Regions from separate parts of the Homo sapiens genome. Here region 1 is linked to region 2. A link means that fine-mapping ties the variant in region 2 to the expression of a gene that starts in the linked region. Tissue or cell type: blood mononuclear cells. Region 2 holds a variant in brackets; the other region holds the start of a gene. All regions are shown on one strand. Distances are between the middles of the regions.

What was found. PIP is the estimated chance that this variant, and not a neighbour inherited with it, causes the effect.
Region 1: SLC27A1 starts here. The variant in region 2 is fine-mapped to the expression of SLC27A1 in blood mononuclear cells (TOPMed, PIP above 0.99). The same link has a PIP of 0.9 or more in whole blood.

The regions. Positions count from the first base shown.
Region 1 is chr19:17,467,884-17,473,959 of GRCh38, forward strand. It overlaps SLC27A1 (solute carrier family 27 member 1), which reads left to right and starts at 2,641. Exons shown (of 12, transcript NM_198580.3): 1 at 2,641-2,824. The coding sequence starts at 2,658. RefSeq lists enhancers at 1,706-1,835, 3,257-3,758 and a silencer at 2,586-2,715.
Region 2 is chr19:17,499,342-17,505,417 of GRCh38, forward strand. It overlaps SLC27A1 (solute carrier family 27 member 1), which reads left to right. Exons shown (of 12, transcript NM_198580.3): 8 at 937-1,063; 9 at 1,154-1,291; 10 at 1,371-1,535; 11 at 1,932-2,078; 12 at 5,114-6,076. The coding sequence ends at 5,271. The region is part of intron 1 of PGLS-DT (PGLS divergent transcript); the gene reads right to left. Among named protein-coding and RNA genes, the nearest start is that of PGLS, 9.3 kb to the right of the region's middle. RefSeq lists enhancers at 150-1,018, 1,019-1,887. The variant C/A (reference allele first, on the strand shown) is at 2,521.

The sequences.
Region 1 (6,076 bases), 31 kb before region 2:
GAGGAGAGAAAAGGGCAGAAAGGAGAGAAGGAGGGAGAAAGAGAGAAGGAGGAAGTGGGGTAAGAGAAGAGAGAATCAGAGCACAAGAAAGGTGGAGGGGAAGTTTAGAGAAGAAAAAGGAGGAGGAGGGGTAAGAAGAGAGGAAGGAGGAGGGAAAGGAGGAGAGGAGGGGAGGAGGGACAGGGAACACTCAGCTGACATTTATGAATGAATGAATCTCAATTCCAAGTAAGCATGACAGCTCCAGTCCTCAGTTTCTTTCTTCCTTCTTTCTTTGTTTCTTTCTTTTCTTTCTTTCTTTCTCTCTTCTATTTTTTTTTTTTTAAGACAGGGTCTTGCTTTGTCACCCAGGCTGGAGTATAGTGACGCGATCTCGGCTCACTGGATCCTCTGCCTTCCGGGTTCAAGTGATTCTGCTCCCTCAGCCTCCGGAGTAGCTGGGATTACAGGTGTGCTCCACCATGCCTGACTAATTTTTGTATTTTTAGTAGAGACGGGGTTTCGTCATGTTGGTCAGGCTGGTTTCGAACTTCTGGCCTCAAGTGATCCACCCAACTCGGCCTCCCAAAATGCTGGGATTACAGGCGTGAGTCACCACGCCCAGCCTGCCCTCAGTTTCTTTACCTGTCAAATGGGGTGATCACAGCGGTGCTACCTGGCTAGGTAAGAGTGCAACTGCAGTTACTGGTCATTGCTGACTCTTCCAGGCCCAGAAAGCAGCAGGCCAGTGGCTGGCTCTGGGCCTGTCCTCCGGATCTTCCTCGTGATCCCTCATTCCAGCCACCCTGCTGCCCGCAGGGACCAATGGCAGCGTAGGGGGTGAGTGCCTGCCCAGCCCTGTCCTCCAAATGCATTGGAATCAGGCCCGGGCCGCCTCCTAAGGAGAACGCTGGAAAGGTCGGCCAAGGAGAGCAGAAAACAAGCAGTGGTGGAGTCGGCAGTGGGGCAGAGGAGGGGGAGCTGGAAGGGAAGGACCCCAAAGCAGAAGCCCGCACAGTAGGCACAGCGCACCCAAGAAGGGTCCAGGAGTCTGCAGAAACAGAAAGGTCCCCGGCCTCAGCCTCCTAGTCCCTGCCTGCCTCCTGCCTGAGCTTCTGGGAGACTGAAGGCACGGCTTGCAGCTTCAGGTCAGCCAGAGAATGGGGTTGTGCGTGCCCCCAGGCCAGCGCTGGCAGCGCCTGGGGGAGCATCTAGGACCCCGGGGTGCAAGTAAAGGGCCTGTAGGTGCTTCTAGGAAGGATGGGGACCTGGCGTGTGGATTTTGTCCTCCCTGGGATCCTGGGGTGTGACGGTGAGACTTAACCGACAAGGCTTCGGGACATGGATTAAGAATTAGCTGTGTCCTTGAATCACACGTGTTAAGACCGCGGCGGTGTTTACAGTTAGAGACTTCTGAGGCCCCAATGGTGTGAGTTGAGCACTCCCCCGGGCCCTGGAACGTGTTTTTAAGACCGAAAGAGGCTTTGGGGCTTGGATTTAGGACAAGCTGGAGCAAGAATACAGCCCGCGCGGGCCGTGGGTGTGGACTGGGATATTTTTGGTCCCCCGGGGTAGAGATCCTGCACGCCAACTAGGGCTCGGGTCCTGATATCTTGCGAGCCACGCCCCAAGGCTGCAGGACACGTGTGTTTCCTAAAAGGAGAGGGGGTGGGGCAAGGCTTGGTTGTCATGGAGACAGCGGACGACCCTGGCGGGCCGTTCTAGCACCCATGTCTCTTTGGCCGTCGCCTCTCCGGTCCGGTTGCCTCTCTATGGTCGTGGCTTCTGGAAGACGGCCGGCCTCGGCTCTGCGGGCTGAGGGGCTTCGAAGTAGACAGGAGGGAAGAGGGGCGGGGCCTAGGTCCTAGGGGGGCCGGAGTGAAACCCAGGAGGTGGCGACCGAGCCAAAGCCTGAGGGCGGGGCCCGTGGCCAGGATAGAACCTGAGCCTGGGAACTTGGGCTAGGCCCGGAACTGGGGTGGGGCTTGAACGGATTGGGGAGGGCTCTAGTTTCGGGAGGGTGGGGCGTGTGCTTATTGCGGGGGGGTGGGGAGGCATATGTCTAACCTAGGGGGTGGGGCCTGGCTGAGAGGGGCGGGACTCGGGGAGAGGGCTTGTACCTGTGGGCTGGGCTAGAAGCATAACCTAAGGGCGGGGCCCAGTGAGTGGTGAAAAGGCCACGGGGTAGAGGCAGGACCAGGAGGAAAGGGGACAGGACGTGAAGGGTAATTCGGGGATCGAGGATAGAGGCTAGATGAAGGCATGTGGCGAGGCCTGACAGTGACCGACAAGGTGGACATGCTGGCTCTGGGGGCGGGGACTGTTGTAAGATTGGCAGGGAAGGATGGGCTCAAAAATATGGAATAGAGCGGACCCAGGGTCCGGGGGCGGAGCCTGGCCAGGACCTGGCCAATCCCAGGCCTGGGGCCCTGGTCTGGTTCCTAGTTAGCGGGCGGGTGTAAAAGCCTGGAAAGGGGCGATGCCTGGCCTGAGGAGTTGACCAATCCCAGGCCTGGGGGCGGAGTCTGACTCGGAGCGCGTTCCCGGACTCGCGGGGGGCGCAGAGCCGAGGCCTGGGGGCGCGGCTCGCTGTAGAGGCGGGGGCGGTCGTGGGGCGGAGCGGGTCGTGGGGCGGGGCTGGAGCGGCCCGCGGCCTCAGCTCTCTCTGCTTCCCCAGGATGCGGGCTCCGGGTGCGGGCGCGGCCTCGGTGGTCTCGCTGGCGCTGTTGTGGCTGCTGGGGCTGCCGTGGACCTGGAGCGCGGCAGCGGCGCTCGGCGTGTACGTGGGCAGCGGCGGCTGGCGCTTCCTGCGCATCGTCTGCAAGACCGCGAGGCGAGACCTCTTGTGAGTGTTGCCGGGATCCGTCCAGGGCTGGGGGCGGGGCTGAGGGCTCTGGGGGCGCACGGTGCAGGGCTGGGTTGCGGGGACGGCTTGGAGGGTCCGGAGAGCTGAGGGTGCTTTGTAGGTTGGGGGCGGGGCTGGGCCGAGGGCTGGGCGGGGGCGGGGCCTGAGAGGGTGACCAGTTGGGGGTCTCTGAGGGGGCTACAGGGGACACTTTAAGGATTTCTCGAGGAAGATGAGTAGCCTCTAAGGTGCTTCGGGCGTTGCAGGCTGCTTAGGAGATGATCTCAGGGGATTTGGGGGGCAATTTGGGGGTCTTTGGGCAACTGGTGGAAATTCCAGGGAGCTGGGGCTGACTGGAAATCCGTGGCGGTGTGGGGGTCTTTTTGGAGCCGTGATAACTGTGAGAGACTTCAGGGGGCTCTCCAGTAGGTCACCGGGGCTCACAGGGACGACCCAATAGATAGTCTCTGGGGGGTTGCCAAGACACTTTGGGTCTATCTAGGGCTTTCTCTGAGGGATGAGCGAGCTGCTCTATAAAGGACTTCCCGGGTTTCTGAAGGTGTGAGTTTCCTCGGGATCGTTTACAGCTGGGGCACTGTTTGAGATTTTGGGGTCTGTGTGGGACTTTGGGTTTGGGAGTTGTTCGGAGTGTGTCGGGAGGCTGCTGTGTATTCCAGGACTTGTTTGGGGGGTCTCTTCTGGAGACTGGGACACTGGATTCATGCTAGGGGGGCAGATTCTGGTGTCCTGTGCAAGGATCCTTGGAGGGTTTTTGCGGTGTCTCTGAGGGACTTGCTCAAACGAGCCGTTGGGGGTCCTTCTGGGATGAAACAGGCATTGCTGGGGGCTTCTATCAGAGCAGACCTCAGGAACAGCACCACGTGGGAGCAGGTGAGCGCCGGCTAGCGGGGCAGGGCTCAACACCTTCACAGCTCCTTGTAAGATGGAGTAGCAAGAGGGACTGAACCCATTGTAAGGAGGGCACAGAGGGTGTGGAGATGGGAAAGATCCCACCGTAAGTTGACTGGTTCTGAACTTTCTAAAACTCACCCCTTCTGCATGCCATGGCCCCCTGCCCCCGGCTCCTTGGTTGTTCTGATGTGGAAATCTGACTGTGCCCTCTGCTCAGACACCTTCCATGGCCAGCCCATCCTTGGCAGAAGGAAGACTCAGCCCCTAGCTGGGCACTCAAGGTCCTACCATCTGTTCCCTGCCCACCTGCCACTCCCCCCATCCATATGTTCACCTGGTCTTCAGAAAGACTTGCAGTGTCAAGCTCAAGCTGCCCAGAACATACTGGACCCCTTTTAGCCAGGGCAGGCTCTCCCTCTGGGAACCTTTGCTGAATTTTCCTGCTCAGCACCCTCCCATAGCTCCTTGTTGCCCTTAGAATTGACGCCATACTGGCCGGGAGCGGTGGCTCACGCCTGTAATCCCAGCACTTTGGGAGGCCGAGGCAGGCAGATCACGAGGTCAGGAGATCAAAACCATCCTGGCTAACACGGTGAAACCCCGTTTCTAATAAAAATACAAAAAAATTAGCCAGGCGTGGTGGTGGACGCCTGTAGTCCCAGCTACTCGGGAGGCTGAGGCAGGAGAATGGTGTGAACCCCGGAGGCGGAGCTTGCAGTGAGCGGAGATCATGCCACTGCAGTCCAGCTTGGGCGACAGAGTGAGACTCCGTCTCAAAAAAAAAAAAAAAAATAGAATTAGAATTGAGGCCATACTCCTGAGCATTGCGCACGAGGTCCCTGACCATGTCCCAGCCTCCGCTTACTTCCCTTTTGTCGCCTAGCTGCACTTACCTTTTGTCTATTGCTCATTTGTTTGTTTGTTTGAGGCAGAGTCTCACTCCGTCGCCCAGGCTGGAGTGCAGTGGTGCGATCTTGGCTCACTGCAACCTCTGCCTCCCAGGTTCAAGTGATTCTCCTGCGTCAGCCTCCCAAGTAGCTGGGACTACAGGCACGTGCCACCATGCCCAGCTAATTTTTGTAATTTTAGTAGAGATGGGGTTTCACCGTATTAACCAGGCTGGTCTCAAACTCCTGACATCACGTAGTCCGCCTGCCTTGGCCTCCTAAAGTGCTGGGATTACAGGCATGAGCCACCATGCCTGGCTCCCTTTTTTTTGAGACAGGGTGTCTTCTCTGTTGCCCAGGGTGGACCAGCCTCCATCTCCTGGGCTCAAGCAATCCTCCCACCTCAGCCTCCTGACTAGCTGGGACTACAAACGCCTGCCTCCGCTCCTGGATAGTTAATAGAATGTTTTTTATAGAGATGAGGTCTCGCTATATTGCCCAGTCTGGTCTGGAACTCCTGGCTTTAAGCGATCCTCCTACCTCAGCCTCCCAAGTGGCTGGGATGACAGGTGCACACCACCACACCTGGCTAATTTTTTTATTTTTTGTAGAGACGTGGTTCTGCCACGTTGCCCAGGCTAGTCTCGAACTCCTGGCCTCCAGCGATCACCCAATTTCAGCCTCCCAAAGTGCTGGGATTACCGCGCCCAGCGTGAACTGCTTTGAACCATATTGTCTACTTGACTTTCAGACAGCCAGATGGTGCAGTTGGAGTTGCAAACTCATGTGAGGTTATGAGTCATCGATCGAGATTTCACCCCTTCCTCCTAACAGCAAGGTCTGAGATACCAAATTTCCTTTTAGCTCCTGGTGTGTGTATGTTAAGGAAAGATCTTATTTTGATTTCCAATTCACCTTTATGTTGAATGGGCATGCTTTGAGGTCTTATCAGACTCAAACCTGCTTGTCTGACACCTAAGCTGTCCCCCTCCTGGGGCTACAATGACATTTTGGCCTCTGGTTGGTCCTTATTTTCTGATCACCTTGTTGCTACATTAATAAAAAATTAACTCGGCTGGGCGCGGTGGCTCACACCTGTAATCCCAGCACTTTGGGAGGCCGAAGCGGGTGGATCACCTGAGGTCAGGAGTTTGAGACCAGCCTGGCCAACGTGGCGAAGCCTTGTCTCTACTGAAAATACAAAAATTAGCCGGGCGTGGTGGTGCACGCCTGTAATCTCAGCTACTTGGGAGTCTGAGGCAAGACAATCACTTGAACCTGGGAGGTGGAGGTTGCAGTGAGCCAAGATCGTGCCATTACACTCCAGACTGGGCAACATGAGCGAAACTCCATCTCAAAAAACAAAACAAAACAAAACAAAGATTTAACTCATTTAACCCAGCATTTTTAGTTGTTTTCTTTCTTTGCTTTGGGATTAGAAGTTTCTTGTTTT
Region 2 (6,076 bases):
TTATGATTACAGAGCGAGGATTATTATAATACTGGAATAAAGAGTAATTGCTACAAACTGATGACTAATGATATTCATATATAATCATGTCTATGATCTAGATCTAGTATAACTCTTGTTGTTTTATATATTTTATTATACTGGAATGGCTCGTGCCCTCGGTCTCTTGCCTCGGCACCTGGGTAGCTTGCCACCCACACACGCCTGTAATCCCAGCACTTTGGGAGGCTGAGGTGGGTGGATCACTTGAGGTCACGAGTTCGAGACCAGTCTGGCCAACATGGCAAAACCCCATCTCTACTAAAAATACAAAAAAAAAAAAAATTGTTTGGGCTCAGTGGCATGCGCCTGTAATCCCAGACTCAGGAGGCTGAGGCATAAGAACCACTTGAACGTGGGAGGCAGAGGTTACAGTGAGCGAAGATTGCGCCACTGCATTCCAGCCTAGGCGACAGAGTAAGACTCTATAAAAAAAGGAAGGAAGGAAGGAAGGGAGGAACGGAGGAAGGGGGAAAAGCAGAAAGAAACACACCAGACAGGGTGTAGTGGCTCAAACATGTTGGAGAAGCATTTCTGTTCATAGAACCATGCCAAGCAGGGCGGCGGGCAGCAGGTGAAGCTCTGCAGTGTCTGACGTAGCTGTAGTGTCCACACAGAGGCATCTACTTCCTGCCAGCATGGAGGGTTTTGTGGATCAGGAAGTGGGTGCCAGCCAGAGGTCTTCTCTTGACTGAATGCAGGCTGGGAAGGTGGGAGGAGGGGCCCTGAGTTGGAGGCGACGCTTACTACCCTGCTTTTGCAGATCAGCCAAGGTCACAGAGCTTAGAATGACACTGGAGGTGCTAGGTCCAAGCCCCAGGGCAAGGCAGGCAAAGTGTTACTGAGAAGGACCCCGCATATCCCCGGCTCCTTCCAACTCAGTTCACCCCATTCCAGGTCGGCTCCTGTGGTTTCAACAGCCGCATCCTGCCCCACGTGTACCCCATCCGGCTGGTGAAGGTCAATGAGGACACAATGGAGCTGCTGCGGGATGCCCAGGGCCTCTGCATCCCCTGCCAGGCCGGTGAGCAGGGCCCCCGCATGGTCCCCACCCGGAGCAGGGGTCCCCACGCCCTGCCTGCCTAGCGCAGCCTGAACATGGCCTTCTCCCTAGGGGAGCCTGGCCTCCTTGTGGGTCAGATCAACCAACAGGACCCGCTGCGCCGCTTCGATGGCTATGTCAGCGAGAGCGCCACCAGCAAGAAGATCGCCCACAGCGTCTTCAGCAAGGGCGACAGCGCCTACCTCTCAGGTGCGCAGCCTGCTAGGCCCCGGTGACTGGCTGTGCGGATGGGGATCCTCCACCCATCTGCCCCTCTCCCCTCTGCCAGGTGACGTGCTAGTGATGGATGAGCTGGGCTACATGTACTTCCGGGACCGTAGCGGGGACACCTTCCGCTGGCGAGGGGAGAACGTCTCCACCACCGAGGTGGAGGGCGTGCTGAGCCGCCTGCTGGGCCAGACAGACGTGGCCGTCTATGGGGTGGCTGTTCCAGGCAAGCTGGGGTTGCAGGGGGTGGTCCTGAGGCATGGTCCTGAGGGAGCTCAGCCAAAAGGGGCTTAGAAGTACACATGCCTTTGGGCAGTGCACAACCTGGACAACTGCTCATGGCAGCCCAGGAGGAAGCACTGGATCTGGAGCCAGTTCACCTGGGTGATGTTGAGCCTCAGTTTTGTCATCCAGAAAATGGGATCATGAAAGCCCACCTGTCTTAGGGCTTCAATGAGCCAAGCAGGAGCTCCACAAAATGTGTGGCTGCTTCCATAAATGTCATCCCAGGTTGGGAGAGACTGGAGATTACAGACCAGGGGCTACTGCTTGACAGTGTATCTGGTCCTGCTGGTGGGGAGGATGAGAGGCGGGGTGTCCTCAGCTGAGCCTCTGCCTCCAGGAGTGGAGGGTAAGGCAGGGATGGCGGCCGTCGCAGACCCCCACAGCCTGCTGGACCCCAACGCGATATACCAGGAGCTGCAGAAGGTGCTGGCACCCTATGCCCGGCCCATCTTCCTGCGCCTCCTGCCCCAGGTGGACACCACAGGTGCGAGTCTCCCCCACTCCAATCTCTCTCTTCATCCATCAGTGTGTCTGTTGATTCATGTCTTGGTCCATTTTGTGTTGCTCTAAAAGAATACCTGGCCGGGGCCAGGCACGGTGGCTCACGCCTGTAATCCCAGCACTTTGGGAGGCCGAGGCGGGCGGATCACGAGGTGAGGAGATCGAGAGCATCCCGGCTAACACAGTGAAACCCTGTCTCTACTAAAAATACAAAAAATTAGCCGGGCACGGTTGCGGGTGCCTGTAGTCCCAGCTACTTGGGAGGCTGAGGCAGGAGAATGGCATGAACCTGGGAGGCGGAGTTTGCAGTGAGCCCAGATCACGCCACTGCACTCCAGCCTGGGCGATAGAGTGATACTCTGTCTCAAAAAAAAAAAAAAAAAAAGAATACCTGGCCGGGTGTGGTGGCTCCCGCCTGTAATCTC[C/A]GCACTTTGGGAGGCTGAGGCAGGTGGATCACCTGAGGTCAGGAGTTCGAGACCAGCCTGGCCAACATGGTGAAACTGTGTCTCTACTAAAAATACAAAAAAAAATTAGCCAGGCATGGTGGCATGCACTTGTAGTCCCAGCTACTCAGGAGGCTGAGGCAGAAGAATTGCTTGAACCTGGGAGGCAGAGGTTGCAGTGAGCCGAGATCAGGCCACTGCACTCCAGCCTGGGTGACAGAGTGAGACAATGTCTCAAAATAATAATAATAATTTCAACATGATTTTTGGTGCGGACAAACAAACCATATCCAAACCATTTACTCATCCTAGTTCAGGACAGTGTCCTGGGACTGACACAAGGGCTCACAGCCAGCTAGCACTGTGGGCTCTCACGGGTCCCTTCTGCTGTTTTATTTTAGTAGTTATTTATTTCCATTCCTCACTTCCACTGCCACTAAGCATTCTGAAATAGTGTTTTTTTTGTTTTTTTTTTTTTTTTTTTTTTTTTGAGATGGAGTCTTGCTCTGTCACCCAGGCTGGAGTGCAGTGGCGTGATCTTGGCTCACTGCAACCTCTACCTCCTGGGTTCAAGCGATTCTCCTGCCTCAGCCTCCTGAATAGCTGGGATTACAGGTGTGCACCACCATGCCCAGCTAATTTTTTTGTATTTTTAGTAGAGATCGAGTTTTACCATATTGGCCAGGCTGGTCTTGAACTCCTGACCTCAAGTGATCCACCTGCCTTGGCCTCCCAAAGTGTTGGGATTACACACATGAGCCACTGCACCCGGCCTCGGTGTATCTTTTCTTTTTCTTTTGTTTTTTTTGTTTGTTTGTTTGTTTGAGACAGGGTCTTACTCTGTTGCCCAGGCTGGCATGCAGTGGCACTATCATAGCTCACTGCAGCCTCAGCCTCCTGGGTTCAAATGATCCTCCCACCTCAGCCTCTGGAGTAGCTAGGACTACAGGCAGGCACCACCATGCCTGACTAATTTTTTTGATTTTTTGTAGAGATGGGGTCTGTATTAGTCCATTCTCATGCTGCTAATAAAGACATATCCGAGACTGGGTAATTTATAAAGGAAAGAGGTTTAATGGAACTCACAGTTCCACATGGCTGGGATGGCCTCACCATCATGGCAGAAGACGAAGGAAAAGCAAAGGGACTTTTTAATGGTGGAGGGCAAGAGAGTGTGTGCAAGGGAACTCCCCTTTAAAAACCACCAAATAAAGCCATCAAATCTCGTGAGACCCCTTCACTATCATGAGAACAGCACGGGAAAGACCCACCCCCATGATTCAACTACCTCCCACCGGGTCCCTCCCACAACACGTGGGAAGTATGGGAGCTACAATTCAAGATGAGATTTGGGTGGGGACACAGCCAAAATATATCAGGGTCTCACTGTGTTGCCCAGGCTGGTCTCGCAGTCCTGGGCTCAGGCAAACTTTTTCTTAAAGGACCAGATAGTTAATATTTTCGGCTTTGCAGGCCATACAGCCTCGATTGCTATTCAACACTGCTATTCTTGTGCAAAAGCAGCCATAGACAATGTGCAAATGAATGAGCATGGCTGTGTGCCAATAAAACTTTATTTCTAAATTTTTATTTATTTTTTGAGACAAGATCTTGCTGTTGTCCAGGCTGGAATGCAATAATGCAATCATAGTTTACTGCAGTCTTCTCCTCCTGGGCTCAAGTGATTCTCCCACCTCAGCCTCCCAAGTAGCCGGAACTACACGCACGTGCCATGACACCCAGCTAATTTAAAAAAAAAAAAAAATTGTTGGCCGGGTGCGGTGGCTCACGCCTGTAATCCCAGCATTTTGAGAGGCCGAGGCGGGCAGATCACTTGAGGTCAGGAGTTCGAGACCAGCCTGGCCAACATAGTGAAACCCTGTCTCTACCAAAATTTTAAAAATTAGCCACGTGTGGTGGTGCACGCCTATAATCCCAGCTACTTGGGAGGCTGAGGCAGGAGAATCACTTGAATCCAGGAGGTGGAGGTTGCAGTGAGCCGAGATCACACCACTGCACTCCAGCCTGGGTGACAAAGCAAGACTATGTCTCAAAAAAAAAAAAAAAAAAAAAAAAAAGGGTTTTTGCAGAGACAGAGTCTCACTATGTTGCCCAGGCTGGTCTTAAACTCCTGGGCTCAAGCGACCCTCCTGCCTTGGCGTCCCAAAGTACTGAGATTATAGGCATGAGCCATTATTGTGCCCGGCCCCAGTAAAACTTTATTTACAAAAACAGGTGGAGGGCCAAATTTGGCCCACAGGATGTAAGTTGCTAAACTCTTATTCACTGTGTAACAGACACAGCCCTGCCTGTCATGTGGGGAATGGACACATGACCAGGCAGGGTGTACATTTTCTTGCCCTGGTGAGGAGTGGTTAGGGAGGCCTCACTGGAGGAGGGGGCATGAAGCCAGGATCTGACAGACAAGGGGGAATCAGGCAGGCAAAATGGGGAAGAACATTCCTGCCCAGGGGACAGCCTGTGGGAAGGTCCAGAGGTGCAGGAGAGGATATTGAGTTGAGGCCTCCCAGAAGCCACCTGCTCAGCCCTTATCTGCCCCCCATCCCCACTATAGGCACCTTCAAGATCCAGAAGACGAGGCTGCAGCGAGAGGGCTTTGACCCACGCCAGACCTCAGACCGGCTCTTCTTCCTGGACCTGAAGCAGGGCCACTACCTGCCCTTAAATGAGGCAGTCTACACTCGCATCTGCTCGGGCGCCTTCGCCCTCTGAAGCTGTTCCTCTACTGGCCACAAACTCTGGGCCTGGTGGGAGAGGCCAGCTTGAGCCAGACAGCGCTGCCCAGGGGTGGCCGCCTAGTACACACCCACCTGGCCGAGCTGTACCTGGCACGGCCCATCCTGGACTGAGAAACTGGAACCTCAGAGGAACCCGTGCCTCTCTGCTGCCTTGGTGCCCCTGTGTCTGCCTCCTCTCCCTGCTTTTCAGCCTCTGTCTCCTTCCATCCCTGTCCCTGTCTGGCCTTAACTCTTCCCTCTTTTTCTTTTCTTTCTTTCTTTCTTTTTTTTTTAAGATAGAGTCTCACTCTGCTGCCCGGGCTAGAGTGCAGTGGTGGGATCTCGGCTCACTGCAACCTCTGCCTCCTGGGGTTCAAGTGATCCTCCCACCTCAGCCTCCTGAGTAGCTGGGATTACAGGCACCCGCCACCACGTCCAGCTAATTTTTATATTTTTAGTAGAGACGGGGTTTCACCATGTTGGTCAGGTTGGTCTTGAACTCCTGACCTCAGGTGATCCGCTGGCCTCGGCCTCCCAGAGTGCTGGGATTATAGGCGTGAGCCTCTGGCCCGGCCTTTCCTTTTTCCTCTCCTCTCCTGCCGAGAGTGGAACACGCGTGTCCTGGGAGCTGCATCTTGTGTAGGGTCCAGCTGCTTTTGGGGACTGCAGGAATCATCTCCCCTGGGCCCTGGACTCGGACTGGGGCCTCCCCACCTCCCTCTCGGCTGTGCCTTACGGAGCCCCGATCCAGGCCTCCTGTGGCTGTTGGGTTCCAGATGCTGCAGCTCCATGTGACTTCC